Linked DNA regions of Homo sapiens. The protein of the gene in region 1 purifies or fractionates together with the protein of each later gene. This does not show direct contact. Each region holds a gene or a part of one and is shown on either strand. Other genes may lie near its edges.

Region 1 (16,736 bases):
GCTGTTTTCAAATTTAGTAATCTTCTTCAGTGTCTAATCTGCTATTAATTCCAATCAGAATATTTGTGTTTCATATATTGTATTTTTAATCAATTAAAGTTCAGTTCAATTTGTGTCTTTTGAAAAAAAATAGTATCTTCCATTTCTCTCCTCCTCATGATCATTCTTTCCTCGATCTTGAACTAGGGAGTATATTTTTAATGTCATTGTCTATGCATTCTATCATTGTGTCATTTCTGGATTTGTTTCTATTGATTGTTTCTTCTCCTTGTTATGGGTCATATTTCCTTCATTCTTTTGCATGCCTTTATAATTTTTTATTGGATGCTGGTCATTATAAATTTTACATGGTTGGGTGCTGAATTTTGTTGTATTAACTTTAAATATATTTGGCATTGTTCTCCTAGGATGCAGTTAAGTTCCTTGGAAAGTAAACCTTTTGAGGCTCTGTTAGGAGGTCCAGAACAGCTTTTAGCTTAGGGGCTCATTTGGCCCTAAGGGTACTGCTGAGACAGTACCCTTCAGCATACTACTCAGTGCATGTCTTACGAGGTCTTTCTACTCCAGCTTGTGTGAATGCAAACTATTCCCAGTCCTGTGTGAACTCTGAGGATTGTTCTGCCTGCTTCTCTATTGTGGTTCTTTCTCCAGCCTTGGTCACCTCCTTAACATGCATGTATTAATCAGAATGTAGCTACAGACTCTAGGGGAATCCTGTGCATACACCAGAGTGCTCACTTTTGGTGGATAGTTCTCTTCTTTCTGATATTCTGCCCTGCAAATTCTAGCTACCTTGGCTTCCCTGACCTCTGAATTCTTGTCTGCTCAACTCAAGGAGACCGCAAGTGACTGTATGGGTTCTTATCCCTACACGCTGGCCTGGAAACCCTCTGTAGCTGGGGCAAATATAGACTTCACTTTCTTTGTATCCTTTATCTCAGGAATCCCTGTCCTGTGCTGTTTGCTGTCCAGTGTCCAAGAACTGTTGTTTCATATATTTTGTCTGGTTTTATTTAAGGAAGGAGGATAAATGTGGCCTCTGTAATTCCCTGTGACCTGAAGCAGCTGATAAGTCCCATATTTTATAACAAAAGACTGACTTCTTAGATGTCCTTTCTTATATAATTTATACTCTCTATATATAACAATTGAATTGTAACTCATAAAATTATAGCAGTGTCAGATGTGTCCATCAATTAAGTTCCATAATACATAAGAATAAAATGGAAAGTACATTGTGAACTTCGATAGACATGTTCACAGAATAACTTGTTATTACTTGGTTTAAAAGTGCAATCCTAGTTCATTTGTTTATATATTTTCTAAAAGTTTTTATAGATCTCTGAATTAAAATACTTGTAATGATATTTCTGCTTTTATCTGTATTTTATGTTCCAAAACTTCACAAATTATACTGTTAACTAGGTTTGTATACCATAAAGACAAATGTTGAATAAATAGCTGTTCTTTCAATTTCTTTAAAAAAAAGATCCAAGATGGGCATTATATTCATTGTATGTTTACAAATTCTTACATTTTAGTTATTCTTCAGCAAAAAATCCAGATGGATGTTTTTTTCAGAAAGTGTTGAATGGGTTTACAAAGTTTTTTTGTAAGGAACAATATTGCAAATTACTAAAATTGTATTTTTATAGGCTGTTTGCTCTTTTGTGGATATTGTGCCTGTCAGGATTCTTGAAGGTAAGTTATGTTATAATGGTTAATTTGAAATATAATTCTGGCTGTGTCAATATAAATAACCTCAAAAAGCTATAAGAGATACTCTTATGATAGGACACTTAGTTATAATTATCCAGAACATTTGTATATAGAATGATTATAGAATTATCCCTTTAGAAAATCAGGGTCTTGTGTTGGTCCTTATTATTGACTGAAAAAAAGATGAATGAATAAATGAATTAAATTACATAGAAAGAGGCCCTTGCTTACAACTGCCAAGCTCCAGTGGCACATTTAATTGTGAAAAACGAAATATATTTTTAAATAATTTATATGTGGAATGCTGTTTTTCAAAGTGGGTAATTTAGTTTAATGGAATATAACCACTCATTCATCCTTCCATCCAACAGAGGCAAGTTTGGACTTGCCTTGCCTTTTTCTGCTTTTAACATTTGTATTCAAAGTTGTACACCATTGTCAAATGTATAATGTAGCAGTAAATCATTAGAGGAAGTAAGTTAAGTCCTGTTAATACTGTTCTCAAATATAAACATATTTCTTTAATCTCTTCCCTATAGTTTTTTTTTTATAGTGAGATAATGGAGTTGGTCTTAGCCGCTGCAGGAGCCCTTCTTTTCTGTGGATTCATCATCTATGACACACACTCACTGATGCATAAACTGTCACCTGAAGAGTACGTATTAGCTGCCATCAGCCTCTACTTGGATATCATCAATCTATTCCTGCACCTGTTACGGTTTCTGGAAGCAGTTAATAAAAAGTAATTAAAAGTATCTCAGCTCAACTGAAGAACAACAAAAAAAATTTAATGAGAAAAAAGGATTAAAGTAATTGGAAGCAGTATATAGAAACTGTTTCATTAAGTAATAAAGTTTGAAACAATGATTAAATACTGTTACAATCTTTATTTGTATCATATGTAATTTTGAGAGCTTTAAAATCTTACTATTCTTTATGATACCTCATTTCTAAATCCTTGATTTAGGATCTCAGTTAAGAGCTATCAAAATTCTATTAAAAATGCTTTTCTGGCTGGGCACAGTGGCTCACGCCTGTAATCCCACCACTTTGGGAGACCGAGGCAGGTGGATCACGAGGTCAAGAGGTTGAGACCATCCTGGCCAACATGGTGAAACCCCGTCTCTACTAAAAATACAAAAATTAGCTGGATGTGGTGGCACACACCTGTAGTCCCAGCTAGTCAAGAGGCTGAGGCCAGAGAATCGCTTGAACCTGGGAGGTGGAGGTTGCATTGAGCCAAGATCACGCCACTGCATTCCAGCCTGGTGACAGAGCGAGACTCAGTCTCAAAAAAAAAAAAAAAATTTTTCTTCCTAAATTAGCCACGCATAGCAGTTCGTTTGCAATTCAAAAATAATTTTATGAGTAGATAAGAATATCAGTTTACCGTTGTCTAGTGATTTTATCTAAATTTTCCCTGAATTATTAAGTAATATTGATTTGGCTTTGATTCTGAAGTAGTAGAGTCTTTACCATTATAAACTGTAAATCTCTTTTTGCTTAAAAGGAAAAAAATGTAAAAGATAAATTCCACAGAGAATTATTCAGTATTACATTAAAATGTTAATGACTTTTTATTTTAAATTGTACTAACATTAAAAGTTGGCCTGAAAGTCAGATATTATGACAAAATTTGACATTAATTGTTTTTAAAGTATAGATTTCATTTGAAATTATAGAATGGTAATGTGGTTAGAGGACACCAAAGATACTGGGTCATCAGCCATTAAGTATATCTATTTCAAAATTAAAATATTTGGGAAGTATTGTCTTATGGTTTCATTTGTGTTGGTCCACACAGCATGTTAGGTCAGTGTACCAGTAACCAATGAAATTTTGTCAAATTCCCTCACTGTACTAGTTTGTTAGGCTGCCATAACAAAGTTCTACAGCTTGGGTGGCTTCAACAAGAAATTTGTTTTCCCACAGTTCTGGAGGCTAAAAGTCCAAGATCAAGGTGTTAGCAGGGTTGGTTTCCTTTGAGGCCTTTCTCTTTGATTTGTAGATGGCCATCTTCTCCCTGTGTCTTTAAATGGCCTTCCCTCTGTACTTGTCTGTGCCCAAATTTCTTCTTCTTATGAGGACACCAGTCATACTGGATTAGGGCCCACACTGAGGACCTCATTTTTCCTTAATTATCTCTTTCAAAACCTATCTCCAAATACAGTCACATTCTGAAGTGCTGGGATTAGGATTTCTTCATGTGAATTTTGGGGGGACTACAACTCAGCCCATAACACCCCCTAAGTATTTCCCAGCTATTAAGTTGAAATAAACTTGTAGTATCAATTTAAGCTTGCATGATTTGTAGATGTAAATTTGACTTTATTATCATTAACTGTTGAATTATCAAGTGTATGATGCAGTGCAATCAAGTTTAACAGCATGGTGGGTAAGAGCATCTAGATTAGAATCATTGCAGTCCAACCAGGTGCTTAAGTGACATTTGGCGAATTATTTATCCTTCCTTAGGTCTTCTGCCTCATCTTCATAATGGGAATAATGATGTCTAGCTTATTGGGCTGTTATAAGGATTAAATGAGATAGATAAATAAACTAAACTAAGTGCTTAATTAATGTCAGCTGATGGTATTAATACCATTTTCTTTTTTTTTTTTTTTTTTTTTTTTTAATTTATTTTTTTATTGATAATTCTTGGTTGTTTCTCACAGAGGGGGATTTGGCAGGGTCATGGGACAATAGTGGAGGGAAGGTCAGCAGATAAACAAGTGAACAAAGGTCTCTGGTTTTCCTAGGCAGAGGACCCTGCAGCCTTCCGCAGTGTTTGTGTCCCTGATTACTTGAGATTAGGGATTGGTGATGACTCTTAACGAGCATGCTGCCTTCAAGCATCTGTTTAACAAAGCACATCTTGCACCGCCCTTAATCCATTTAACCCTGAGTGGACACAGCACATGTTTCAGAGAGCACAGGGTTGGGGGTAAGGTCACAGATCAACAGGATCCCAAGGCAGAAGAATTTTTCTTAGTGCAGAACAAAATGAAAAGTCTCCCATGTCTACTTCTTTCTACACAGACACAGCAACCATCCGATTTCTCAATCTTTTCCCCACCTTTCCCCCTTTTCTATTCCACAAAACCGCCATTGTCATCATGGCCCGTTCTCAATGAGCTGTTGGGCACACCTCCCAGACGGGGTGGTGGCTGGGCAGAGGGGCTCCTCACTTCCCAGTAGGGGCGGCCGGGCAGAGGCGCCCCTCACCTCCCGGACGGGGCAGCTGGCCGGGCGGGGGGGCTGACCCCCCCCCACCTCCCTCCCAGACGGGGCAGCTGGCCGGGCAGAGGGGCTCCTCACTTCCCAGTAGGGGCGGCCGGGCAGAGGTGCCCCTCACCTCCCGGACGGGGCAGCTGGCCGGGCAGGGGGCTGACCCCCCCACCTCCCTCCCAGACTGGGCGGCTGGCCGGGCAAAGGGGCTCCTCACTTCCCAGTAGGGGCGGCCGGGCAGAGGCGCCCCTCACCTCCCAGACGGGGCAGCTGGCCGGGCGGAGGGCTGACCCCCCCACCTCCCTCCTGGACAGGGCGGCTGGCTGGGCAGGGGGCTGACCCCCCCACCTCCCTCCCGGACGGGGCGGCTGGCCGGGCAGAGGGGCTCCTCACTTCCCAGTAGGGGCGGCCGGGCAGAGGCGCCCCTCACCTCCCAGACGGGGCGGCTGGCCGGGCGGAGGGCTGACCCCCCCACCTCCCTCCCGGACAGGGCAGCTGGCCAGGCTGAGGGGCTCCTCACTTCCCAGTAGGGGTGGCCGGGCAGAGGCGCCCCTCACCTCCCGGACGGGGCGGCTGGCCGGGCGGGGGGCTGACCCCCGACCTCCCTCCCGGATGGGGCGGCTGGCCGGGCAGGGGCTGACCCCCCCACCTCCCTCCCGGACGGGGTGGCTGCCGGGCAGAGACGCTCCTCACTTCCCAGATGGGGTGGCTGCCGGGCGGAGAGGCTCCTCACTTCTCAGACGGGGCAGCTGCCGGGCGGAGGGGCTCCTCACTTCTCAGACGGGGTGGTTGCCAGGCAGAGGGTCTCCTCACTTCTCACACGGGGCGGCCGGGCAGAGACGCTCCTCACCTCCCAGACGGGGTCTCGGCCGGGCAGAGGCACTCCTCACATCCCAGATGGGGCGGCGGGGCAGAGGCGCTCCCCACATCTCAGACGATGGGCGGCCGGGCAGAGACGCTCCTCACTTCCTAGATGTGATGGCGGCTGGGAAGAGGCGCTCCTCACTTCCTAGATGGGATGGCGGCCGGGCGCAGACGCTCCTCACTTTCCAGACTGGGCAGCCAGGCAGAGAGGCTCCTCACATCCCAGACGATGGGCAGCCAGGCAGAGACGCTCCTCACTTCCCAGACGGGGTGGCGGCCGGGCAGAGGCTGCAATCTCGGCACCGTGGGAGGCCAAGGCAGGCGGCTGGGAGGTGTAGGCCGTAGCGAGCCGAGATCACGCCACTGCACTCCAGTCTGGGCACCATTGAGCACTGAGTGAACGAGACTCCGTCTGCAATCCTGGCACCTCGGGAGGCCAAGGCTGGCGGATCACTCGCGGTCAGGGGCTGGAGACCGGCCCGGCCAACACAGCGAAACCCCGTCTCCACCAAGACCAGTCAGGTGTGGCGGCGCGTGCCTGCAATCGCAGGCACTCGGCAGGCTGAGGCAGGAGAATCAGGCAGGGAGGTTGCAGTGAGCCGAGATGGCAGCAGTACAGTCCAGCTTCGGCTCCGCATGAGAGGGAGACCGTGGGGAGAGTGAGAGGGAGAGGGAGAGGGAGAGGGAGAGGGAGACGGAGAGGGAGAGGGAGAGGGAGAGGCCCCCTTACATTTTTGCACGCTATTAATACCATTTTCAGTTCAAAGGTGGAATGGACTGATTGTGACTAAAGATTCTGTATAAGCAAAAGTAGATCTGACATTTTTAAAATGTAAAACAATGCCATTCTTTTCACTAAATTATTTTTTATTTAGAAAATATAGTTATTTTCCATAAAAATGTTAACATGTAGTAAGTTTATCCTTTCTAAATGACTTAAATTTTCCAAAAAAAATTGTTTTAATTTCTGATAAGATCAATATAATAAGCGTGTAAAGGAATCCCAAGACCAAGAAGTTTGAAAACCTTTGGTACAAAATATTACATTTTATAAATCAACCATTGGTTTATTCCTGTGTTCTGTCAATGAATTTTATGTGGTATGTAAGTCCGTGTATGTGTCCCACTGTGTATAAGTATGAGTTCTTCTAGGTAGGGAATATACCTCGACCATTTTAAAGCATTGCATTAAGTAAAGGTGAAAATACACAGACTTCAGAAATATTAATAGAAAGTGGAATTAGGGCTGGGCATGGTGGCTCATACCTGTAATCCCAGCACTTTGGGAGACCGAGGCGGGCAGATCACCTGAGGTTGGGAGTTCGAGATCAGCCTGGCTAACACGGTGAAACCCCGTCTCTACTAAATATACAAAATTAGCTGGGCGTGTTGGCGCACGCCTGTAATCCCAGCTACTCAGGAGGCTGAGCCAGAAGAATCACTTGAATCCAGGAGGCAGAGGTTGCAGTGAGCCAGGATCGTGCCACTGCACTCCAGCCTGGTGACGAAGTGAGACTCCGTCTCAAAAAAAAAAAGAACATGGAATTAGCAGGACTTGGACAGAGCAACAGGCAACTCAGTGTGCAAGGGCCATAGGAAGAACAGCTAAGAGGTAGGAGGAAAATGAGGAAAGAGCAATATCTGAGAACTTCTGTATTTCTTGAACGTAATTTGGGAAAAGAGATGCAGTAGGCCGTATACACCTGCCTTGATTTCTTCTCAGACCTAGCTTCAGTCTACTTGATGCATTTCCAGGGATTAGTGGTCAACAGCCTGCAGCTGCAGGCCTTTTTTTTGGAGCAGCTAAGGACTTAGATACTTTTTGCTTTTTCCTTTCATTTTTCTAGAGCTTTGTCTTGAAGTCCCCATTATCTAGGGAATGGGCAACATGGGGTCACTATCTGAATCCCAGAAGTCTTCCTGTTCCTTACTGATTGTGCAGATCAGGGATTCCATGGGAGAGGCCTGACTGCAGGGGCCCCACTGACTGTTCTGCATCATGTAGCATGCCTTTTGGATGAGAAAATCAGTCTGCTTCCTGTAAGGTATTCAGGGCCACCCACTGTGCCTCTAGTTCTATATATAGGCTCCTTCCAGCTCTGTGATGAGCCACTGCAATGTTTAGTTGGACCCTTAAGCCTTGTTTGTCCATTAGGAGATAAAGTTTCCCAAAAACAGTAGTTTAGTTTCCTTCATCTTTGCAAATTCAGCATAGTGCCTATAATAGAGTGCATATTCAAAGGCATGAATGAAGGAATGAATTAGACTTTTAAATATACTAAGGCCACTTTTCTAGAACTGCTTTTATATAACTGGTGAGGGGACATAAGTAAAAAGGAGTAAAAGGGTGTTTTACTCAGCTGTTTAAAGCACTTGTAATGCTAAATCATGGCATGGTATTTTAACAACATGACATTTTCATAATAGGTAAATTATTTTTTCTGGTGCCAAGTGCCTATTCAAAAGTCTTGTCCTGGTATGTTAAACAAGATACAGTAAATATGGACTATCAGAATATAAGTTTTCTCTAAAATGCAATGTGCACTTATATTTTTGGGTGAGGTAGCTAACTTCTCATTTGAAAGATGAGGTACAGTATATGGTTAACTTGTAAAACAGAAATTCACTTGCTTTATAAGAACGAAATCTCATTTAAATAAACCAGGTTTCTTAGGCATGCTTCCTTTTTTTATATCAAATGTTCTAGGTTTTTTTCAGCCTCTTTAACCTTGCTATATTCTGAATTCAGTAATTTCCATACTATGCATGGTTTCATAAAGGACACAAATTTAAAGAAAAAAGGTACCCATAGATTGCCTCAGAACCCCTTTTTCTGGCAACCAGCAGGAGTTTACCAGGCCATCATTAAAGACATGTTTTTTGGGTATATGTCGTAAATCTCTAGAAACATTGCTTACAAATAGTACTGTGTAGCTATACTTTTGAAACTATAATGTAAAAAGGGTACCATTTGTTGAACTCTTACAGCATCAATTAGGTTGTATTATGTTCACTTTAGGGACAAGGAAATTCAGGCCCTTATGACATTAATTACTCACCCATATCGTTCACAAGTGTTGGAAGCAAGAGTACAACACAGACCTATATGGTTCCAAAGCCTATGCCAGTAGAAATAGTTGTACAGTAAGTGTTATTCGTGAGCTAAGACAATCGTCCTAGGCTTAGCATTGTGTCTGATACGTAAGTGATCAGACAGGTAAACATTGATAGAACTGAAATCCTTTGATCATTTTACCCTTTAAATTCTTCTCTGGGGTAGGAAAAGCTTGTTTTCTGTTTTTGGTAACCGCTTTGAGTATAACTGACATGCAATAAGTTGCACATATTTAAAGTGTGCAGTTTGATACGGTTTTACATATGTGTACATCTGTGAGGCCATCACCCGAGATGAGAAAATGCACAGGCTGCAAATAAAAATGATCTCAATACGGCCTCTGGAAGAACACCTGATCTAGGCTGACTTGATCTAAGGAAATACATGAGTATCATGTAAACGCTGAGGTCAGATCTAAAGGTCGGCTCGGAGCTCCCTATCTGACAAGTAGGGTCCCCTGGCCAGGTTCACTCCATAGGTTAGTCTCGGGGCTACCCTGCCCACGTCCGGAAAGCGGACCTACCTGGGGCCTAACCTTGACCGGACACCCGTCAGCATTCTCCAAATCCGACTTCTACACCTGTATGGGACGGACCAAGTTTCTAGGTCCGCGATCACACCAATGGCGGAAGCTCGTCAGCGCCCGGGTTCCAAAATCCCGCCTCTCAAGGCTTCTTGAGACATTTTGTCTCCCGGCGTGCAATGCGTCCGCCCCGGGTGGCCTCCGCCCGGAAGACGGAAGTGCAAAGACTTCCGGTCGGCGTGAGCGTGAGGTGTGGGTGTTCGTTTCTCAGGTGAGTTCGGTTCCTCACCGGTCCAGTGACACATGGGACTTGGGGCTTGATTCCGCCACCCTTGGAGAATTTCGTTTCTTGACACTCGCTGGGCTATACTTGAGCTCCAGTCCGGAGATGCAGGCCTTGTTGAGGGCGAGGGTTCCCCTTGCTCTTTTTGGTGGGGGCCCTCCGGCTTCCGAGTGCACTGGATAAAGTGGAGCCCACCCCTGTCGTTCACTCCCGCTGAAGTTAACTTCGGCCCTCAAGGTTGTTTGCCGCCCGCTTTCCTAGCCCCTCGCAAGGGTTGAGTTATGTAGACAAGGGAGCGGAATGACTGTGATTGCCGGCGTTCAAAAAATGTTAGTGGTTCGTTCAACAAGTATGCAAAAAGTGTGCGATTCAGCAGTGAACAAGACCTTTCCCTCTACCTTCGTGGAGTCTACAGTCTGGGGAGAGGGTCGGGGGGCGTGACAGAAAACAATGGTTTCAGGTTGTAACACTTAATAAGCAGGGAAGGGAGCTTACGGAGGTCAGAGGAGTCCTTTCTGAGGTAGCGAATGAAGGAGCAAGCCTTGAGAAGAGCAGTTGCCAGGCATAGGGACAGCAAATATGAAGGCACTGACGTAGAGATAGTTTGGACTCTTTACAGACGTAGTTGGTGCCTGCGGGGATGGGGATGGAGAATGAAATGAAATAGAGTTGAAGGAGGCAGGGGACAGATCACAAATGACCTTGTAGATCTTGAATATATATGAGGGAGGAGGTCTTTAAAGAACTCGAAGAAAGGCAGTGAATGCTTTTTTAAAAGATCACACTGAGCACCTTGTGGAGGATTTAGGGCGGAACTGAGTGGAAAGAAAACAAGAGTAGGAATAGATAAGTTTACAGTCGTTAAGTTGGCTTGAGAGGATGGATAATGAAGATGAGGTGAAGTGTTTATAAAAATCATTTGTAATTTGTAAGCTGTTGCATAAATGTAAGGTGATGACGCTGTTGCATTCTGGGGAAATTAAATTTCTGTATTTTGTAAAGAAATTCAGCCGGGCGCGGTGGCTCAAGCCTGTAATCCCAGCACTTTGGGAGGCCGAGGCGGGCGGATCACAATGTCAGGAGATCGAGACTATCCTGGCTAACACGGTGAAAACCCGTCTCTACTAAAAATACAAAAAATTAGCCAGGCGTGGTGGCGGGCGCCTGTAGTCCCAGCTGCTCGGGAGGCTGAGGCAGGAGAATGGCGTGAACCTGAGAGGTGGAGGTTGCAGTGAGCTGAGATCGCGCCACTGCACTCCAGCCTGGGACACAGAACAAGACTCTGTCTCAAAAAAAAAAAAAGAAAAAAGACATGCAAGGTGCTTTCAGAATTGGTTTGATTTGTAGTTTGCTTATGACCACAAGTTTGATTTGATATCTTGTTATTTAGTGACTGTGTATGTACCATGTTGATCTTCATATAAGTTGCATGTTAAGTCCTAAAAAGTGAACAGATTGAAGAGTTTTACTTTTCACTTGTTTTGTAGAGATACCTGTTGGCCTGGTTTTCTAAGGATTTGCCTGTTTTCTTTTTTATATTAAAGATTTGCTTTTGAATGTGTGTTTTTGTTAACTTCAGGTAAAACATGGCTAAAAGCTTACGGAGTAAGTGGAAAAGAAAGATGCGTGCTGAAAAGAGAAAAAAGAATGCCCCAAAGGAGGCCAGCAGGCTTAAAAGTATTCTCAAACTAGACGGTGATGTTTTAATGAAAGATGTTCAAGAGATAGCAACTGTGGTGGTACCCAAACCCAAACATTGCCAAGAGAAAATGCAATGTGAGGTAAAAGATGAAAAAGGTGAGTGTGCTTCTCCTTTTTCTTTCTCTTTTTTTTTTTTTTTTTTTGAGGCAGGGTCTCCTTCCTCTGTCACCTAGGCTAGAGTGCAGTGGTGTGATTATAGCTTCCTGCAGCCTTGAATTCCTGAGCTGAAGCGGATTCTTCCCACCTCAGCCTTCCAAAGCACTGGGTTACAGGCATGAACCACAGTGCCCAGCCCCTCTGCGCTTCATTTAAAAACAAAAAAAATTCTGTCAAGCCTGTTCATGTATATACATATGTTTTGGATTATTTAGAGTGGGTCTTTGGTGCTTATACAATAGCCTCCATGTCTCAGGAATAAACAGTTCTACAGGAGTAGACAAATCTAGGCATACTCTGGTTGGAAGGGTACACAGTTCACTCAGGGCCTAGGCAGCATAGGTCTTCATTTTACTCTTTGTAAGATCTAATTCCCATTCTATGAGTCCTATGCCCTTATACTATTATCCTGAAAATCACAGGGTTTCACTATTTCATTTTGACAGATTCTAGGAACCTTTGTGTCTTAATCATGAAGTTGGAGGATATATATATAATGCTGCTTTTTGCACATTTAATGCACCAATTTGGCAGCAAACTAAATTAAGTATTTGCAATACCCAGACTTTAAAATAGAAATACATGTATTTGATGTCTTATGCCCAAGGAAAAGAGCAGTATTTCTCAATCTCCCAACCTTAGGGGGTTTTTTCCCTTTAAAAATGGCTGTTTTTAACTTTTTCTTCTTCCCATTTCATCCTTCTCCCACTCTGTATGAATAAAAATTACAAAAAGCATTTTACTTCAACTTCTGTGAGAAAAAGGGGCCAACCAAGAAATATCCTCATCTTTCCACTACCCAAGTCTATAAGAATTCAAATGTTGTATAGTCTGTTTTCCCTTTTTTATTAATGTTCTCTCCAAGGCCAGTTTCTCCACTTGTGTTCTGAATCCTCTCCACCGTTAACATTCTCAGGGGTTGTACTCATGCATCTGCCTTATCAGTCTCCTCCACTGGGTCATTGCCAACAGCATAGATGTGTTCTGGGATGTTCAATGTCAAAAGAAAGAAAGAAAAATTTCTCCCTTGATCTCAAGTTCTCTCAATCTGCTGCTTTATTTCAGCTGTCCTTGAAACTTTTTGAAACACTTGCCTTCACTTGCTGTTTTCATTTCCTCACACACACATCACCCCTCCCTATTGGTTCTTTTTTGTTGTTGTTAAGGCAAAATCCACATAACATAAAATTAACCATTTTAAAGTGTACAGTTCAGTGGTATTTAGTACATTCATGTTGTGCAACCATCACCTCTAGTTCCAAAACACTTTCCTCACCCTAAAAGGAAACTTAATACCCATTAAGAAGTCTGTCTCTCCTCCTCCTACCCCCAGCCTCTGGCAACCACTAATATGCTCTTTTCATGTGTGAATTTACCTGTTTTGAATATTTCTTATAAATGGAATCATATATAATGAGACCTTTGTGCCTGGCTTATTTCCCTTAGCATGGTGCTTTTGAAGGTCACGCACATTGTAGCATATATCAGTACTTCCTTTCTTTTTAAGGCTAAATAATAGTCCATTGCATGTACCACGTTTCATATCCATTCAACGGTTGCTGGGCATTTGGATTTCTTTCCCCTTATGGGTGTTGTGAATAGTGCTGCTGTGAACATTCAGGTGCACAAGGTTTTGTTTGATAAGTGGAATTGCTGGGTCATATGGTAATTCTTTTTAATGTTCTCCACATCAGCCACACTATTTTACATTCCCACCTGCAGTGTTTGAGTATTTGAGTTTCTTCACATCCTCACTAATACTTGTTTTCCATTTTCGGATTATAGCCATCTTCGAGGGTATGAAATAGATTCTCATTGTAATTTTGATTTGAAGTTTCCTAATGACTAATGACATTGAATGAAGTGTTTTTTGGTTTTTGTTTGTTTGTTTTTTGTTTTTTTTTTTTGAGATGGAGTCTTACTGTTGCCCAGGCTGGAGTGCAGTGGCATGATCTCGGCTCACCACAACCTCTGCCTCCCAGGTTCAAGCAATTCTCCTGCCTCAGACTCCCAAGTAGCTGGGAATACAGGCGTGTGCCACCATGCCCAGCTGAATTTTGCATTTTTAGTAGGGTTGGGGTTTCACCATGTTGGCCAGGCTGGTCTTGAACTCCTGACCTCAAGTGATCCACCTGCCTCAGCCTCCCAAAGTGCTGGGATTACAGGTGTGAGCCACCACACCCGGCTGAACATTTTTTCATATGCTGATTGACCATTTGTATTATCTTTTTGGAGAAAGGTCTACTCAAGTCTTTTGCCTCGTTTTTCAATTACGTTGTTTGTCTTTTTATTATCGGGTTGTTAAGAGTTCTTTATATGTTCTAGATACCAGATGCCCACATCCACTCTTGATTCTTTTGGATTGATCCTGTTTTCTTTTCTCTCCTGTTTTCTATTTATTTTGTTATACCCTCTAATTTCCTTGACCTTGAATTCTGGTTCTTATTACTTGGTTTTCTCTTATATTTTTAATTTCTAAAAGTTTTTCTTTTTTTTTTTACTTTTTTTTTTTGAGATGAACTCTCACTCTGTCGCCCAGGCTGGAGTGCAGTGGCATGATCTCGGCTCACTGCAAGCTCCATCTCCCGGGTTCGCGCCATTCTCCTGCCTCAGCCTCCCTAGTAGCTGGGACTACAGGCGCCTGCGATCACACCCGGCTAATTTTTTGTATTTTTAGTGGAGACGGGGTTTCACCATGTTAGCCAGGATGGTCTCGATCTCCTGACCTCGTGATCCACCCGCCTCGGCCTCCCAAAGTGCTGGGATTACAGGCGTGAGCCACTGCGCCTGGCCTACTGTTCCTTTTTCATAGCTTTGTGTTCTTTGTGTTTTGTAAATGCCCCTTGAGTCATCAACTCTGTGTTCTTAATGGGCATATATCTTCTCCTAAGGGTATTAATTACAATTTGCTTTTGAAATTTTTATTTATGGTATGTATTATCTGTCTTTCCTCTTGGAATTCCCTCCCAAGCCCTTCCATTCCTTTACTTTTGTCTCTTTCTTTCATATTAGAAGCTTTTCTCAAATGTCTGGTGATCAGTGGTCATTGTTTGTATTTAAAAGTGTGGCACTACAATGATGATTGGAAGCTGGAGGGAGACAAGGTGTGGGAGAGGGTCTGTCAACTGCTAGATGTATAGAAGATTTGGAATGGCTCCAGGAGGTTTTATTCGGAGATCTCCTGTATCAGAATCTGTTAAGTCTTTTTTTTTCCTCATCATCCCCAGAGAGAAATTATCTTATGTCCTGCCTGGGGAATTCTGGATGCCCTTATTCTTAGATATTTTAGGAGCTAAAGGGTGGTGAGACTGAGACTGAGGGAGTCTCCCCATTTAGTAATCTATTTGTTATCAATTTGGCTCTCATCTCTACCCTCAAGTTCATGTTTTTCCTTATTTCTACTCTTTCAACTGCCTGCCTGATTTCTTAAGCCATAAACCTAGTAGTCATCCTTGATTCCTCTTTCCTTTATTCCCCACATCTAAACCATTAGCAAGTCTTACTGATTGTCCCAAAAATACATTAGAAATCTGTATCCATTTTTTTCCTGCTTTCACCTTGATTCAGAAGGCCGTCATCTCTTGCCTGTACTATTATAGGAGCCTTTTTACTTCTCTCTTCCGCTCTTGTTCCCTTCTCATTTATCTTCTACATATCCACCAGTGTGATCTTTTCAGAAGGTAAATCAGTTTATATCACTGCCATGCTTAAAAACCTCATTATCTTAACATGTTCTTACCAGCGCCTACCAGTTCTTTTTTTTGCGGGGAGACAGGATCTCACTTTGTTGCCCAGGCTGGAGTATAGTGGCTGTTCACAGGCGTGACCAAGCCCACAACATCCTTGAACTCCTGGCCTCAAATGATCCTCCCACCCCAGTCTCCCGAATAGCTGAGACTACAAATGCCTATAGATACTATACCTGGCTGAGGTTTTCTTTCTGTTTGCTGTGTTATTCTCCCGTCAACAGAACACTGTAAACTCCGTGAGGGCTAGGAGTTCATATGGACCACTATATCCCCATAAACTAGAACAGCACCTAAAATAATCATTCAACACCTAGTTATTGAGTGGCTGTTATATACCAGACACTATTCTAGATACTGTGGAAACAATGGCAAATATCTAATATAATGCCAGGTAGTCGAGATAATAGAAGACTTTGTGTATCCTGATAAGGAGGTCCCAGTGAGGGACTCTGAGCATGTCCTTCACAGTGGAGAAGGTGATAGGTGTACCACAGCATGTTTGCACTGAGCTTCCTGCCAAGTCTCCTATCAGTAGAGCTGGATCTCTGGGTGTTACCTAGCTAGGAAAAGTATGCCAGCCCCAGGATGTGTCCAGGTCTTCTCTGTTGAGTGCCTGTCTCTGCCATTACAACCCTGCTGCTGACTACTCCATCGAGTTCATTAGAAGTTCGTTCTCAGTTCATTATAATTTAGTTCAAGTTCTTAAGAAATGGCCAGTCATTCCTAATCAGTTCATTACATCTAAGGTGTATCCCTTAGAAGTGTAGGTATGCTTACTGAACTCAAGGAATCACTTAATATGAGAAATGTTGTTGTAACTCACATGTGCTCAGAACCATATATCTACTAATGTACTAACTCAGAGCCATGCATCCTAAATGTTTCCTATTTAACATTACTATTCTAAGGAAGGACAGTCATGCCAACATTCTTTATAAAGTTTTTTTCTTCTCTATTTTCGGTCTACCTTCAGTTCTAATGTTCTGATGTTCTCAGTGCATTAATATGCTTTCACAGGGTGGTTTTTTTCATACATGGTGTTAATAGTTTTTCCATCTTTTTATGCAGATGACATGAAAATGGAGACTGATATTAAGAGAAACAAAAAGACTCTTCTAGACCAGCATGGACAGTACCCAATATGGATGAACCAAAGGCAAAGAAAAAGGCTGAAGGCAAAGCGAGAGAAAAGAAAGGGGAAAAGCAAAGCAAAAGCAGTGAAAGTGGCAAAGGGTTTGGCCTGGTAGACTCTTAAAACCTTGGAAAATGCCACATGGGATAGATGACGGATTAGAATGTATACACATGTATACTTTGATTTCAACTGCCACCAAATGAAAACCATTTGTTTTCCTATTTTAACTTGGCCTTTTTTCTTCAATTCAAACCCAGCATAAC
Region 2 (16,568 bases), on another chromosome or scaffold:
ATTATAGGCATGCACCACCACTCCCGGCTAATTTTGTATTTTTAGTAGAGACGGGGTTTCTCCATGTTGATCAGGCTGGTCTTGAACTCCTGACCTCAGGTGATCCACCCGTCTCAGCCTCCCAAAGTGCTGGGATTACAGGCGTGAGCCACCGTACCCGACCACCAAAATCTTGATGATCAGAGAAAGTAGTTCACACAAGCCCCCTCTCCTCTCACAGGCTGGCTTCTCCCCACCACCCGCCACAATACTTCCCAGCATAAGTCCCTCTGAAAGTTAACAAATATTAACCAGAGAGAGATTAATTAACTGGTTGACAGTATTTCAGGATCCTGTGAGTGACAAAGGAAGGGGTAGAAGCCTCTAGAATTGTCTATCATTTGTGACACAAAGTTTGTGCTCAATAAATATTTATTGACTTGGTACCTAGGATGCCAAAAGTTTCCTATGTCTTTTGGTCTGTCACATAAAAGTCATAGAACCCCTAATCTCTGAGAAAGATCACTTAAAGAAAAATCTTTCATTTATTCAGAACTAAAAAATTCATTTCTTTTACTCACTCCCTCAAACTCGAAAGCCACATAAAACTCTGCATTTGCAGTCTTCCAGGAAGTGTACCCCCAAGGAATTATATGTTTCTGAAAGTGTGGTTTGACCCCTGCAAATGGATTCTTTAGGGTGGTATTTAAAAATGCAGATCCTGGGGGCGCAGTGGCTTACATCTGTAATCCCAGCAGCTTGGGAGGCTGAGGAGGGTGGATAGCTTGAGCTTAGGAATTCAAGACCAGCCGGGGCAACATGTCTCTATTGAAAATACAAGAAGTTAGCCGGGCATGGTGGCAGAGGCCTGTAATCCCAGCTACTTCAGAGCTGAGGTGGGAGGATTGCTTGGTGGGAGGATTGCTTGAACCCAGGAGGCAGAGGTTGCAGTGAGCAGAGATCGTGCCACTGCACTCCGGCCTGGGTGAGAGAGGGAGGCTCTGTCTAAAAAAATAATAATAATAAAAATAAAAAATAAAAAAAAGAAAATTTTAAAAATAAATGAATAAAAATGCAGATTCTCAGGCCCCAACCCTCCTCTTCGGAACAGAATTTCCAATAGGTGACTTGGGAACCTGCATTTTAGTAGACTCTCCCATGTGATGAAAATGCATGTCAAAGTTTGAGAAGCACTGCTCCAAAGCTAGGTAACTGCATCCCAGAAGCTACTCAAAACAATCCATCATGGATGGAAACAAATATTGGAACTCCATATATATATATATATATATATATATATTTTTTTTTTTTTTTTTTTTCTTTGAGATGGAGTCTCGCTCTGTCGCCCAGGCTGGAGTGCAGTGGCGCGATCTCGGCTTATTGCAAGCTCCACCTCCTGGGTTCACGCCATTCTCCTGCCTCAGCCTCCCGAGTAGCTGGGATTACAGGTGCCCGCCACCACGCTCGGCTAATTTTTTGTATTTTTAGTAGAGACGGGGTTTCACCGTGTTAGCCAGGATGGTCTGGATCTCCTGACCTCGTGATCCGCTCGCCTCGGCCTCCTAAAGTGCTGGGATTACAGGCATAAGCCACCAAGCCCGGCCGGAACTCCTTATATTTCTTAATGTAAAAAAATCTTTTCAGCCCAGAAAAGTATTGCCTGGGCTGAAAGGGCTGGAGGAGTGGGGGGACTCCCTGGTTAACTGAGAAGGGGCACAAGAGAACCTTTAGGGCTGATGAAAATGTTCTGTATCTAGAGTGTTGTGATGGTTACACAGGGGCATCCATTTATCAAAACTCTTTAAACCATACACATTATTTACCTTTTTTTTTAAGATGGAGTCTCACGCTGTCGCCCAGGTTGGAGGGCAATGGTGCAATCTCGACTTACTGCAACCTCCACATCCTGGGTTCAAGAGATTCTCCTGCCTCAGCCTCCTGAGTAGCTGGGATTACAAGTGCACGCCACCATGCCCAGCTAAATTTTTTTTTGTTTTTTTAGTAGAGATGGGGTTCCACCATCTCTGGTGAAATTCCTGACCTCAAGTGAGCCGCCTGCCTTGGCCTCCCAAAGTGCTAGGATTACAGCATGAGCCATGGCGCCCGGCCTCCATACACTTTAAATGGGTACATTTTATTGTATGTAAATCATACCTCAATAAAATTGATTTTAAAAAGTTTTAAAAAGTAGAACAGTAAATAGTATACAAATTAAGAATTTTCCATCATAGAATGTTTAAATAAATGTACACACATTAGGAGTACATGCTCAAAACATTCTCTGCTGATAGGCATGCGGGATCAAAATGTTAGGAAACGATTTCCCTTAGATGACCTCTTTTAGCTTCATTTTCTAAATTGGTCTAAAACATATTAAAATATCTTCCCAGTGCCAGGAGTGGTGGTACACATCTGTAATCCCACCTATTCAGGAGGCTGGGGCAGGAGGGTGGCTTGAGCTCGGGAGTTTTAGATCAGCCTAAGCAAAATATTGAGACCCCCGTCTCTATTTTAATAAATAAATAAGTAAATACAAAATAATACATAAAAAATAATAAAATACTATCTCTTCCCTGTATGGGAAATAGAGAAAAGATCATGAAATAAGTCTCCCCTCTCTCCTCCCAACCTGAGACCAGCTCCCCTGCTGCAATTTGGTTGAAGTGATTTCTCACTGGGCCTGAAATCCTAGGTGCTCCTGAAACCTTTTACCCCTTTTTCACCTCTATGTTACTATGGCTTCTTCTGTTCCAAAGTAGCCGCAGGAAAAGCTCGCAGATACCTGGTTTGGAAGTAAATACAGGCAGAAGCAGTAAGCAAATTAGAACCATTTAATGGATGGAAAAATATATCTACTTATTTTAAATGTGTAATTTTGCCATCTCTGCATTATGTAAAAAGTAGAAAATATTGTGTTATCACATGCTTCATTTGTCACTATTTAAGATTTTATCATGGTTCACAATATTACAATGTCATAATGTTTGTTAGCTTAATTTCTAAAGAAAATTGCAGACACCGAGAGTCAAATTTGATCAAATTAAAAATTTGAGATGTAGTGTTTGTGAAAAGAGAACAAAAATTCCCAAATGATTCTTACAGGGTGCACCCTTTTGTGTCACGATGTTGCAGAAAACAGCATGTCTCTAAGGCCACCAGTCTGACAATAACATGACTCCATGGACAGTGCAGAATTAGTTACAGAAGGAACTTCAGGAAGATTTCTCCTAGATGAATACGCCCACACAAACAACACAGAACATGCAAGAGTAAAATGCAAATCATTTTTCCTTAGTGAAAGAAGCAGACACAAAAGGCCACATATTATTAGATCCCATTTACAGGAAATGTCCAGAATTGGAAAACAAACAAAAAGTAGGTTAGAGATCGCCAGGGGCTGAGGAAAGGGGAGAATGAGGACTGGTTCCTGATGGTTGTGGGGTTTCTCTTTGGGGTGATGAAAATGTTCTGGAATTCCAATAGTGGTAACAGTTGCACAACATCATGAATATACTTATTGCCACTGAACTGTACACTTTAAAATAGTTTTACTTCGGGAGGCCCAGGAGGGCAGATCACCTGAGGTCAGGAGTTCAAGAGCAGCCTGGCCAATGTGGCAAAACCCTGTCTCTACTAAAAATACAAAAATTAGCCAGGCATGGTGGCGCGTGCCTGTAATCCCAGCTACTTGGGAGGCTGAGGCAAGAGAATCGCTTGAACCCAGGAGGCGGAGGTTGCAGTGAGCTGAGATCACACCACTGCACTCTAGCCTGGGTGACAGAACAAAAAATAAATAAATAAATAAATAAATAAACCTCAAAAAAGTAAATAAATAAAATAAATAGTTTTAGCCATTTTTAAAATGGTAAAAAACAAACAAAAAATAAATACTTTATCTCAAAAAATAAATAAAAATAGTTTTAGCCATTTTTAAAATGGTAAAAAACAAACAAACAAAAACTGTTACAAACAAAAATAGAGTGCTATGATGACCAAAAAAGTAAAATGCGAATAAGAAGCAACTACTAAGATGCCAAGTAAGACAAACTTAAAAAAATGAGTAATAAGACTTAAAAGGGCTAGAGATCCAGAATATATAAAGAATTAAAACCACAATGAGGGCTGGGCGCGGTGGCTCACGCCTGTAATCCCAGCACTTTGGGAGGCCAAGGTGGGCAGATCACGAGGTCAGGAGATCGAGACCACCCTAGCGAACATGGTGAAACCCTGTCTCTACCCAAAATACAAAAAAAAAAAATTAGCCAGGGGTGGTGGCATGCACCTCTAGTCCCAGCTACTCAGGAGGCTGAGGCAGAATGGCGTGAACCCAGGAGGCGGAGACTGCACTGAACCGAGATTGCACCACTGCACTCCAGCCTGGGCGACAGACCGAGGCTCTGTCTCAAAAAAAAACAAAAACAAAAACAAAAACAAACAAAAAAAACCACAGTGATACAATTTCACATTCCTTGTATTGGCACAAATTTTTAAAAGCTGACGATACCACTTGGCCACTATGTGAGGCAAGGGAAGGCTCTTATTCTTCTGGTGGGAGTATAACTTGGCAAACACACTTCGGAAAACAATTTGGCATTATCACATAAAACTTTAAGAATCAAAATTCCACTCTCCCTCTCTTTCCACGGTCTCCCTCTCCCTCTCTTTCCACGGTCTCCCTCTCCCTCTCTTTCCACGGTCTCCCTCTCCCTCTCTTTCCACGGTCTCCCTCTCCCTCTCTTTCCACCGTCTCCCTCTGATGCGGAGCCGAGGCTGGACTGTACTGCTGCCATCTCGGCTCACTGCAACCTCCCTGCCTGATTCTCCTGCCTCAGCCTGCCGAGTGCCTGCGATTGCAGGCGCGTGCCGCCACGCCTGACTGGTTTTCGTATTTTTTTGGTGGAGACGGGGTTTCGCTGTGTTGGCCGGGCTGGTCTCCAGCTCCTAACCGCGAGTGATCCGCCAGCCTCGGCCTCCCGAGGTGCCGGGATGGCAGACGGGGTCTTGCTCACTCAGTGCTCAATCTTGCCCAGGCTGGAGTGCAGTGGTGTGATCTCGGCTAGCTACAACCTCCACCTCCCAGCCGCCTGCCTTGGCCTCCCAAAGTGCCGAGATCGCAGCCTCTGCCCTGCCGCCACCCCGTCTGGGAAGTGAGGAGCGTCTCTGCCTGGCCGCCCATCGTCTGGGATGTGAGCAGCCCCTCTGCTCGGCTGCCCAGTCTGGGAAGTGAGGAGCGCCTCTTCCCGGCCGCCATCCCGTCTAGGAAGTGAGGAGCGTCTCTGCCAGGCCGCCCATCGTCTGAGATGCGGGGAGCGCCTCTGCCCTGCCGCCCCGTCTGGGATGTGAGGAGCGCCTCAGCCCGGCCACCACCCCGTCTGGGAGGTGTACCCAACAGCTCATTGAGAACGGGCCATGATGACGATGGCGGTTTTGTGGAATAGAAAAGGGGGAAAGGTGGGGAAATGATAGAGAAATCGGATTGTTACTGTGTCTGTGTAGAAAGTAGACATGGGAGACTTCATTTTGTTCTGTACTAAGAAAAATTCTTCTGCCTTGGGATGCTGTTGATCTATGACCTTACCCCCAACCCTGTGCTCTCTGAAACATGTGCTGTGTCCACTCAGGGTTAAATGGATTAAGGGCGGTGCAAGATGTGCTTTGTTAAACAGATGCTTGAAGGCAGCAGACTCGTTAAGAGTCATCACCACTCCCTAATCTCAAGTACCCAGGGACACAAACACTGCGGAAGGCCGCAGGGTCCTCTGCCTAGGAAAACCAGAGACATTTGTTCACTTGTTTATCTGCTGACCTTCCCTCCACTATTGTCCTATGACCCTGCTAAATCCCCCTCTGTGAGAAACACCCAAGAATGATCAATAAAAAAAAAAAAAAATCAAAATTCCACTACTAGATCTCTAGGGAAACTCATGTACATGTACACAAAGAAGCATATACCAAAATGTTCAAAGCATAATGGTTTAATAGCAAATACTTAAAACAATATCAATTTTACTTTGTTTTTTCAGAGGCAGGGTCTCATTCTATTGCCCAGGCTGGAGGGCAGTGGCGCAACTGCACCTGACCGCAGCCTTGTCCTCCCAGGCTCAAGTGATCCTCCCGCCTCAGCCTCCTGAGTAACTGGGACCACAGGTGTGTGCCACTGTGTCCAACTAATTTTATTTTTTAATGTTTTTGTAGGAGCTATGTTGCCCGGGCTGGTCTCGAACCCCTGACTTCAAGAGATTCTCCCACCTCGGCCTCTTGAAGTACTGGGATTACAGATATTAGCTACTGAGGCCAGTCTCAATTTTAATAATAAGAAGATCAATATATAAATTGTGTACATTCATGCAAAAGAAAACAATGAAGACATTTCAGGGAATCAGAGTAGACCTTCTCTAAAATTGGTGGGGCCCAGAGCAAGGTTATAAATGGAGGCTTGGATACAAATGTCTAAATATTTAACAGTAATAAATCATGCTGAGCTGGGCTTAGTGGCTCATGCCTGTAATCCCAGCAGTTTGGGAGGCTGAGGCAAGAGGAATGCTTGAGCCCAGGCACTCGAGACCAGCCTGGGCAAAATAGTGAGACACTGTCTCTATACACACACACACACACACACACACACACACACACACACACACAAATTAGCCAGGTATGGTGGCACTAGCCTGGTCCCAGCTACTGGGAGGCTGACATGGGAGGATCGTTTGAATCCAGGAGGTGGAGGCTGCAGTGAGCCATATTTGCACCACCACACTCCAGAGTGGTGACAGAACAAGATCCTGTCTCAAAAAAAAAAAAAGTATATATATATGTATATGTATATGTATATGTATATGTATATGTGTGTGTGTGTTTATATATGATATATATAAAATAAAAACTTTAATACAAAAACTTTAAAATTTGTTGTAAAAAAATTTTTTTGGAGACAGAGCCACACTCTGTTGCCCAGGCTGGTGTGCACTGGCATGAACATAGCTCACTGTAACCTCAAAATTCCTGGGATCAAACAATCCTTCTGCCTCAGCCTCCAGCACTGCTAGGACTATGGGCATGCACCACCACGCCCAGCTAATATTTTTTATATAATTATTTTTATTTTTTATTTATTTTACTTGTTTTTTATTTTTTTATTTTTTTATTTTTTTTTTATTTTTTGATGGGGTCTCACTATGTTGTCCAGGCTAGTCTTGAACTCCTGTCCTCAATCCTCTCATCTTGGCCTCCCAAAGCACTGGGAGTACACCCATGAGCCACTGCACCCAGCCCAGGAAAAAAATTTTTTTTGAATTCAAATAATGACTATTTCAAAGCCTTCCGACTGGCATAAGCCAAAAAAGTCTGATAACACCAAGCATTAATTGGCCAGAAAATGAGGAAACTGGGACACTCAGACATATAAGTATAAATTGGCACAGCCACCTTTATACTAATTCGTCAGAATCTGGAAAAGTTGAAGCTATGTAACAATTCAAACCAACAATTCCACTTCCTAATGATCTACCCTGGAAAAGCTCTAACCATGAGCACCAGGAAACACTTGCACGTAAATTCTTGGCAGCACGATTTGGTATAACAAAAACCTGGAAATATACTATATATCCATTACTGGGGGGAATAGGTAACTGAACTGTGGTATAAATCCTATGATGAAATACTTTTCAACTGTTAAAATGAATAAACTAGGTCCTTGTGTAGCAATATGAATAGATCTCCAAAACACAGCATTGAATAAAAATTCTAAAACACATAAAATACTACATTTTGTATATGGATGCAAACATATACAAGAGGAAATTATAAAATCATGGAAGGACAAGATACACACCAAAATCATGATTGAAGCTGCTTCTTAGGAAAGGGAAATGAGACTGGGGATGAGAAAAAAATAACCTTAGGTCTGTTATGATTGTTTAGTATATTTTAAAAGAGGAGCAAAACTGAAAAATGTGAACACTTATTTATCCCAGGAGGTGAGTTATAACTTTTATGGGTTCAGAATAAATATTCTCTGATGCTTGCGTTTTTCAGTATTCTATTCAACTTGCGAAACAGTCAACTAGTCCTCTTCCCATCTACCCACCCCCACCCAAAATGTGAATTAACCGAAAAGGAAAGACATACAAACAGGAAAGAACCCAGAGGAAACACCCACATCGGCAAAAACCGCAAAGCAAGGTAAAGACCCTTAGGCAGCCTGCTTGAAACAGTTAACAGAAATCATGCAGGCAAAATAAATTTTTGAATTAATAACTTCATATAGTTACTGGACAATGTAAGTAGCTAGTTAAGAAGTCAAGGCCGGGCGCGGTGGCTCACGCCTGTAATCCCAGCACTTTGGGAGGCTGAGGTGGGCGGATTGCCTGAGCTCAGGAGTTGGAGACCAGACTGGGCAACATAGTGAAATCCCGTCTCTACTAAAATACAAAAATGAAAAAAAATTAGCCAGGCGTGGTGGCAGGCGCCTGTAGTCCCAGCTACGCGGGAGGCTGAGGCAGGAGAATCGCTTGAACCGGGGAGGCGGAGGTTGCAGCGAGCTGAGATCACGCCACTGCACTCCAGCCTGGCAACAGAGCGAGACTCTGTCACAAAAAAAAAAAAAAAAAAAAAAAAAGTCAAACAAGGCCGGGAGCGGTGGCTCATGCCTGTAATCCTGCACTTTGGGAGGCTGGGAAGATTGCTTAAGCCTAGGAGTTTGAGAGCAGCCCAGGCAAAATGGCAAAATCCCATCTCTACTAAAAAATACAAAAATTAGCTGGGTGTGGTGGCACATGCTTGTAATCCCAGCTACTCGGGAGGCTGAGGCAGGACAATCGCTTGAACCGGGGAGGCGGAGGTTGCAGCGAGCTGAGATCACGCCACTGCACTCCAGCCTGGGTGACAGAGTGAGACTCTGTCTCAAAAAAAAAAAAAAAAAAAAAGAAAAGAAAAGTTAGCCGGACATGGTGGCGCCCACCTGTAGTCCCAGCTACTCAGGAGGCTGAGGGAGGAGGATCATCTGAGCCTAGGAATTCGAAGTGGCAGTGAGCTATGACCGTGCCACTGCACTTCAGTCTGGGTGACAAAGCAAGATCTCATTTCTAAAGAAAAAAAAAAGGAAGTCATGCAGATCTAGGTTCAAATACCAATCCTGCCAGCTTCTAGTTATGTTACTTTCAGTAGATTTCTGAAAGGCTCCATGCCCGAGTTTCCTACAATAAGGATGGGACTTAAAATACTACCTTAGGAGCTATCCTAAAGACTAACCTGGATATCATCTCCAAAGTGCTTATCATAGTGGTTGGCACATAGTTATTTGTTCGATAAATAGTGATTATTTTTGCATCAGAAGTGGGATTAGAACTCCATGTGTGGGCATATATTTCAGCAAAGCAAATAGAAATATCCAAACCGATTCACCAAAACAATTATCCAACATTGAAGCAAGCCCTGTTGTCAACTAAAATGTATCACTAAAAACATTGCAAAAGAAAAGACAGGAACTACAGAATAGACAGGATAAATCCTATCTATAAATAATAGTACCACAGACAAAATTTTATACACCCAGCACAATGCAAATCGTCCCCCTGTAAACAGAGACCAGTTTAGTGAACTGAATAGTAATGTCAAGATGGGTATCAATTAGTTAACAGACCCCATTAACTGGTAATCTACAAAGAAAGTTCTTAAACTCACAAGTGGCAAGTTTTGGAAGACAAGGTTTTATTACTCGCTAAGAGGAGAATATTTTTAAAACATAAGTAGGGAGGAAAAAAACATGTTTTCTAGGACCCGAGGACAAAAAAAAAATTCTCCCAGAGGTCCTTATTACAACACTTTATACATTAATAGATTAAAAGTTTGTAATTCCCAAATTCAAAAGTGATATAAAATGAAATTAAAAATATGGCTCTGCCAATAAATGTTAGGAAATAAGATTTTATCACTCTACTAAAAAAAATAAACTTTATTGACTTCTCTGGAGGGTCCATCCAAATTTAGATAGACCAAATAATCCCTATATTATATATATTCTTATAAAAGTGGAGGTTAACAACCCAATTAACGAGTTTAAAACAGTTTTGCTGTTTCAAACCAGGGAAAAATATACCATAATAAACTTCATAAAACTAAAATTTCTAAGCATATTGCCTACAACAAATTGAAACAAAGTATTTAAATGTTAGATATGTAACATATGAAAACAATTATAGGCCAGGTGAGGCAGTGGCTCAGGCCTGTAATCCCAGCACTTTGGGAGGCCTAGGCCGGCAGATCGCTTGAGCTCAGGAGTTCGAGACCGGCCTGGCCAACATCGCGAAACCCCATCTCTACTAAAAATACAAAAAATTAGCCAAGCATGGTGGCACACACCTATAATCCCAGCTACTTGGGAGTCTGAGGCAGTAGAATTGCTTGAACCTGGGAGGCAGAGTTTGCAGTGAGCTGAGATCGGGTCACTGCACTCCAGCCTTGGGTGACCCTATCTCAAAAAATTTTAAAAAAATCTTTTTTTAAAAGGATTATGTCTATGTATCCTTTTCCCTGAAAATAAAAGTTGGATTTATAAGACAATCAGGGAAATTTGAATACCAACTGGACAATAGATGATATTAAAATTGTAATTTTTTTTACAAAAATGTGATCATTGTACTGTATTATGTTAATAAAACATAGTTCTTATGTTTTAGAGATACTAAAGTACTTAGTAATCAAATGGTTGCTGAGATTTGCTTTAAAATAACACATTGGAGTTGGGGACACATGGGGAATAGGGAGAATAAATGAAACAAAACTGGCCATATTTTCAAAACTGTTGAAATGATGGGTACAAGGGGCTTCATCATTTTTTTCTCTCTACTTTTGAGTATGTTGAAAATATCCATAGTAAGAAATAAAAAAATAAAAAGCATATGTATTTCATACTAAAAATCAACACTAGTTGGTGAAGAATTTGTCATAATAGAAAAGATAAGAACAGAAAAAACATAACAAAGCCTTCCAACCATGTTATTTGGTGTAGTGCTAGAACATGCTAGAATGTTCCTTCCTTTTCTATCCTCCACCCTCTGCTCTCTTCTCCTTCTCAGAGATTTCTTCAGTGACCAGCAATGACTTAGATGATTTCCTCGATACCCATAACTCCCAGCAACTCAGAAACAACCTTCAAATTGTTGCCCCACAACATATTAAAGAAAATTTTAAATAAAGGAACACATTCAAGCACTTTTTAAAAACGTTAGAGTGAGCTGAAAGGGTTTTTGCTCTAAAGAAATTTTTAAAAAAATACATTGCGTCCTCTACCTCATCCATCTAAAACACTTACCTTTGTGTGTTTTATTACACGTATATTGGGGGTGAGTGACTGGAGTTTTTGTTAGGTGCGTGATCAAAAGTTTGCCGACTGGTCGGACTTGGTGGCTTATGCCTGTAATCCCAGCACTTTGGGAGGCTGAGACAAGTGGATCACCTGAGGTCAGGAGTTCGAGACCAGCCTGGCCAACATGGTGAAACCCTGTCTCTACTAAAAATACAAAAATTGGCCGGGTGCGATGGTGCATGCCTGTAATCCCAGCTACTCGGGAGGCTGAGGCAGGAGAATCGCTTGAACCTGGGAGGTGGAGGTTGCAGTGAACCGAGGTGGAGCCACTGCACTCCAGCCTAAAAAGTTTGCTGACAACCATTTTAAACCCTGGGACACAAGTCAAAGTGTTTAAGAATGGGCCAAGTGTAAAAAGTACTGTATCGAGAAAAGTAATTGAGCAGAGCACATAGTGACAGAAAGGGTGGGAGGAAAGACTGGCCATTCATTAATTCAACAAGGCGTTCATTCAGTTCATTCAGAAATTAGATGGGAAGGCAGAATCCGCCAAGAAGGGAAAGAGACTTCACAAAAAGGACTTGGTGATGACAGATTGTGAGGAGGATTAAAACCCTGCCTGGGGGAAAAGATGAGTTTGACTCCATGGACAGGACACACGCGGGAGAGGAAGGGCTTGGGATCAAGGGAAAGGCCTGGGCAGCGAATGTGGACCTGGAAGCCATCTTTTTAGATGTGCAGCTGTCCTCGAGGGAGCAAGCTCTCTTAGGGAGAAACTGGGAAGAAAATCACTCAAGAGTCTTAACCCAAACCTTGCAGCGCATCTGCATTTAGACGAAAAAAAAAAAAGGCAAACGGAAACAACAGAAGCAGTGGCCCGAGACGTGAGCCACACTGCTTCAAAGGGATTTAAGAGAGTTGTCCCAAGGCAGGCGGTCAACTGCGCGCGCCACCGTAGAGAGACCACCCGGAGGGAAGGCCCGCGGCTGCTACAACTTCAGGAACCTGGAAAAGGGCCACCCCTGCTACGCGCCAGGCATCAGAAAAGCGGTGATGAGGGGCATGGGGGTGACCGGGAAGGGAGGGACAAGCAGAGAGACCTGCGGCTCGCTCCGGCGGAGACGGACCGGGGGCCCAGGGCGGCTGGGTTACTGGCTCCGCCACGTCTAGGGAAGGAGGTAGTAGGGAGGGAAAGACTCAAGATACCAAAGACGGGAGGCTCTTTCCTTCCTTCCCAAACCTGCCTACCGCTTCTCTAGGCCCTGGCTGGCTCCAGAGCACTTTATTCTTCTGATTCGTGCGGGCGGGCGGGGAAAGGGGTGGAGGTTGAGCCTGGTCTCCTCCAGGCACTAGCATTTTAGCCATTCTCGAGAAAATGTCTGGAGGTGCCGGAAGGAAGGGAACTGCAAAGGTAGAAGCGCGGGCCCTGCAGAGGCTCCCAGAGGGGAGCAGAGAAGGGAGTGGCTGGAGGCGGAGGCTGTCAGGTGCGGGGTCCCGGCGAAGCCGTGCCCCTCCCAGAACATTGCCCGCCTGGACAGTCCACCCCGACCACGGCTGCGGACAGCGCCCCTCCCTCCGGGTGCACTCACCGCTCGGACTGCGAATAGTTGCACCGGCCCAGCAAGTTGAGTTTGCAGAGATGCAGGTTATCGCAGGGTCTCTGGCAGTACTTGCGACGGCAGACCCGGGCTCGAGTGGTGGCCACCACCGATCGGGTGATCCCGGCCTCGCCGCCGGTCTCCAACACCACAAAGCGGTCGGGCCCGGCCACCTGCAGCACCTCACAGAGCTGCGGCTCAGACAGCGCGATCTCCTGGAGCAGCGCGTCCAGGGCCATGCGGCCCCCGTGGGCGCACAGGATTTTGGTGATGAAGCAGCACACCTCCGGGTCCGCCATGGCGCGCTGGCTGTGCTGGCTCTGCCGCGGCGCGGGACTCGGTTCCGCGGAAATCGGAAATCGAAACTTACAAGTGTCCAGGGGCGGGCGCGGGCGGTGCTACTGCTGGGCGCGCCCGGAGTCAGCGAGGGCGCGCTCTCCGTCGCCGTTAGCCCAGCCCAGCGATCCACTCTCGGCTCTCAGGTCAAGAGGCTAGATCTCACCGACCGGGTCCTAGTGGCAGGTTTACAGCCGGCCGCAAGGGCAACTGGGTGGAAAGAAAGAGAACGCGCGGGCAAATCTGCTGGTGACCGCCTGGGGTGGCCCCCTCTCGGTTCTAGGCTCGGCGAGGGTGAGGTTCTCCAGCCGGGCTCCGCGAGCCTTCTTTAGAAAGAAGAGAAACTAAAAGCGATCTTGGGGCTCTGGCCGGTGTTTTATAAGCCAGCCGACTGAGGCGTGTGACGCAAGTCCTGAGAGCCCTGTTGAGGAGTGCGCACCCCACCCATTCCCGGAAAGAGCAGACCCTAGCGAGCGCTTCCTGCGAGCCGTGCGCTCTGCCTCTGTTGGTAGTGAATCTTCCCAGCAACTCCACATGGTAGATATTATTATCCTCACCCTGAACTTGAGGAAGTAACTTGCACGAACACGCACTGGCATCAAGCGGAGCCCAGATGCCACCGAGTTTCCCCAAATCGCGTCCCCAGGCCCCAGATCGTGGTACCCCAGGCCCCGATGTGCAAGTTTCTCCTCCACCACCGTGCCCTCTTAAAGAACAACGATTGCCACTCTCCCTCGTTTCTGCCTTCTCACGAACTTTTGGACAAACCACTTCTTGACATGGTCTTGCTTACCTAGAATCGCTAACTCGGTGCCCTGAACCACTGCTTGTACCTCAATCACGGTGGACATGCTAAGACATATCCCAAGATTTCAGATCGGTTCCTCCCCGTAGAGATTGGGACAAGAACTTTTCCACCGTGGGGACGTACTTTGACCCCCAGAGTTGACATAAAGATTGTTTTTAAGTGAAAACATTGAGCTACAGAAGATGTAGAAAGAAATCTTAATGAAACTTCCCTTATCTGACTAAAGCAAAACCTCCCGAAAACATGGTGCCATTAAAAGCCTCTCGGAGTATTCAGCTGCCAGGAAGACAGACTGTCCCATTACCATTAGCACCAAAAAACCCAATGGGCTGGGTGCTGTGGCTCAGCCCGTAATCCCAGCGCTTTAGGAAGCCGAGGCAGTGGGAGGATTGCTTGAACCCAGGAGTTCAAGACTAGCCTGGGCAACATAGTGAGCTCTCTTCAATAATAATAATAATAATAATAATAATAATAATAATAATAATAATAAAAACAACCCGGGCATGGTGGTGTGCAGCCGCAGTCCCAGCTACTCGGGAGCCTGAGGTGGGAGGATTGCTTGAGCACGGGAGGAGGCTGCAACGAGCCGGGATTGTGCCACTGCACTCCAGCCTGGGGGATAGCGCTGAGACTTTGTCTCAAAAACACAAAACAACCCAATCAAAACTTCCAAACTCTCCTACTGAAGCCCTAAAACTTTCCTTTTTGTTAAGTTGAGGTATATAAACCTTTACTTTTGAGTTTTCTGTTACTGGAAGCTCCTGCATGCATGTGTAAATAAACTTTGTCTTTTCTCCTATTTATCTGTCTAGTGCCAGTTAATTTTTAGGCCCCCAAAGACAGGACACAAGTTGAAGAGAAAAAAGGTTTTTTTTTCCAACATCTTCAAATAAAATAGATGGGTCATTTGATCAGATAAGAAATACATCTTTTTAAAAAATAATAGATTCTGGTTGCTAACTTAGAAATTCTTCAAAATGATTAATGAGAATTCTCCTCAGTTTTGTCATTCATGGTATATAAACCCTCTTTCAGGAATAGAGTACTTTGTTATGAAAACCAGCCAAACATGGGGGCCACATAGGATCATCTTAGGATGTCTAAGAGGGACATCTTGTTCCCTCTAGTTGCTGCTTCTATAGTTGTCTTTTAATCCACTTGGCCTTATTTGTGGTCTGACAGGTTCCCAGGGACCTTTTATTATCAAATCAACTAAGTTCTAGATGTTTATTGACTATCTTCTATGTGGTATTTACATTAGTTAGTAATGTAAGGACATGCAGAAGTTTAAAAAACAGTCCCTGCACTCAAGGAGCATGTATGCGAAGACATGAAAAAATGCATGGAAATATAAGCAAATTCATGGGTAAATGCCACAATGGGAATATAGAAGATGAGAGACTGAAGAGTCTAGTTTGGCTACAGTGGTTGGGAGTACAGACATAGAATCTCCTCCAATTTGAAGCCATGAAAAATGATTTAAGGGCCAGGTGCAGTGGCTTGTGCCTGTAATCCCAACACTTTGGGAGGCCAAGGCGGGAGGATCATGACCATCCTGGGCAACATACTGTGAGATCCACCTGGGCAACATAGCGAGACCTCATCTCCACTAAAAATAAAAATTAGCCAGACATAGTGGTATGTGCCTGTAGTCCCAACTACTTGGGAGGCTGCGGCGGGAGGATTTCTTGAGCCCGGGAGTTCAAGGTTGCAGTGAGCTACAATTGTGCCACTGCACTCCAGCAAAGGCAACAGAGGAAGATCCTTTTGGAAAGGGAAGAGAGGGAAAGGGAAAGGGAAACGGAAATGGAAAGTGACAGAGAAAGGGAAAGGGAAAGTGAAAATGAAAGAGAAAGGGAAATGGAAAGGGAAAGGGAGGGAAAGGAAAGAAAGGAAGGGAAAGGAAAGGAAGAGAAAGGAAAGGAAGGAAGGGAAAGGAAAGAAGGGAAAGGAAAGGGGAAAAGGAAGGAAAAGGAAAAAAAGGAAGGAAAAGGAAAAGGGGAAAAAAGAAGGGAAAGTGAAAGGAAAAAAGAAAGGGAAAGTGAAAGAGAAAGGTGATTTAAGGAGTTCTGGGAAGGGAAAAGGAGACATTTTGAAAAATTTTGAAATATGTGCCATCAGAGATTGGGTTCTCCAGGAAGGAGATCCTGACATGGAGTTAAGAGTGCAGAACTTTCTCTGCACTTTTTCTGGGGCATAATGCCAGAAAAAGTCAAAGGAAAAAGCATGATTGATCCATGGGGCCTATCAGACTTTTGTGCGGACCTAACAAAGTCTCTGCCAGCCCAATGAGGAGCTCTGGAGTAGGAGTCCAGCTTTGGACAGAAAAGGCTAGGCCCTTGTACTGCCTTGCTCAGTCACCGGTGGGGGCCACCAGAGAAGTGGATGACTTCAGCTCGAATGCTGGGGCAGATCTTGAAAGAGCTAAAGCTGGAGGATATTGGCTAAACATGCTCCTCAAAGCTGGGCTGCAAGCTTGACCTGAGTGCCACCCTGTGTCAGCTGTAGTCCACCCTTTGTACTACATGGCTTTCTTTATCCA

The links.
Region 2: the proteins of LLPH (region 1) and ZC3HAV1 purify together in Homo sapiens (affinity purification with mass spectrometry; 2 studies listed by BioGRID and IntAct, with this or other methods). This does not show direct contact.

Annotation. Positions count from the first base shown.
Region 1 is NC_000012.12:66,123,689-66,140,424, reverse strand, and holds the start of LLPH (protein LLP homolog), read left to right. Parts: upstream 1-9,674; 5' UTR 9,675-9,720; intron 9,721-11,311; 5' UTR 11,312-11,318; coding exon 11,319-11,529; intron 11,530-16,406; coding exon 16,407-16,585; 3' UTR 16,586-16,736. Other genes in the region: TMBIM4 (protein lifeguard 4), read left to right, coding at 1,656-1,701, 2,259-2,465. UniProt on the Homo sapiens protein: In hippocampal neurons, regulates dendritic and spine growth and synaptic transmission.
Region 2 is NC_000007.14:139,096,151-139,112,718, forward strand, and holds the start of ZC3HAV1 (zinc finger CCCH-type antiviral protein 1), read right to left. Parts: upstream 13,571-16,568; 5' UTR 13,182-13,570; coding exon 12,874-13,181; intron 1-12,873.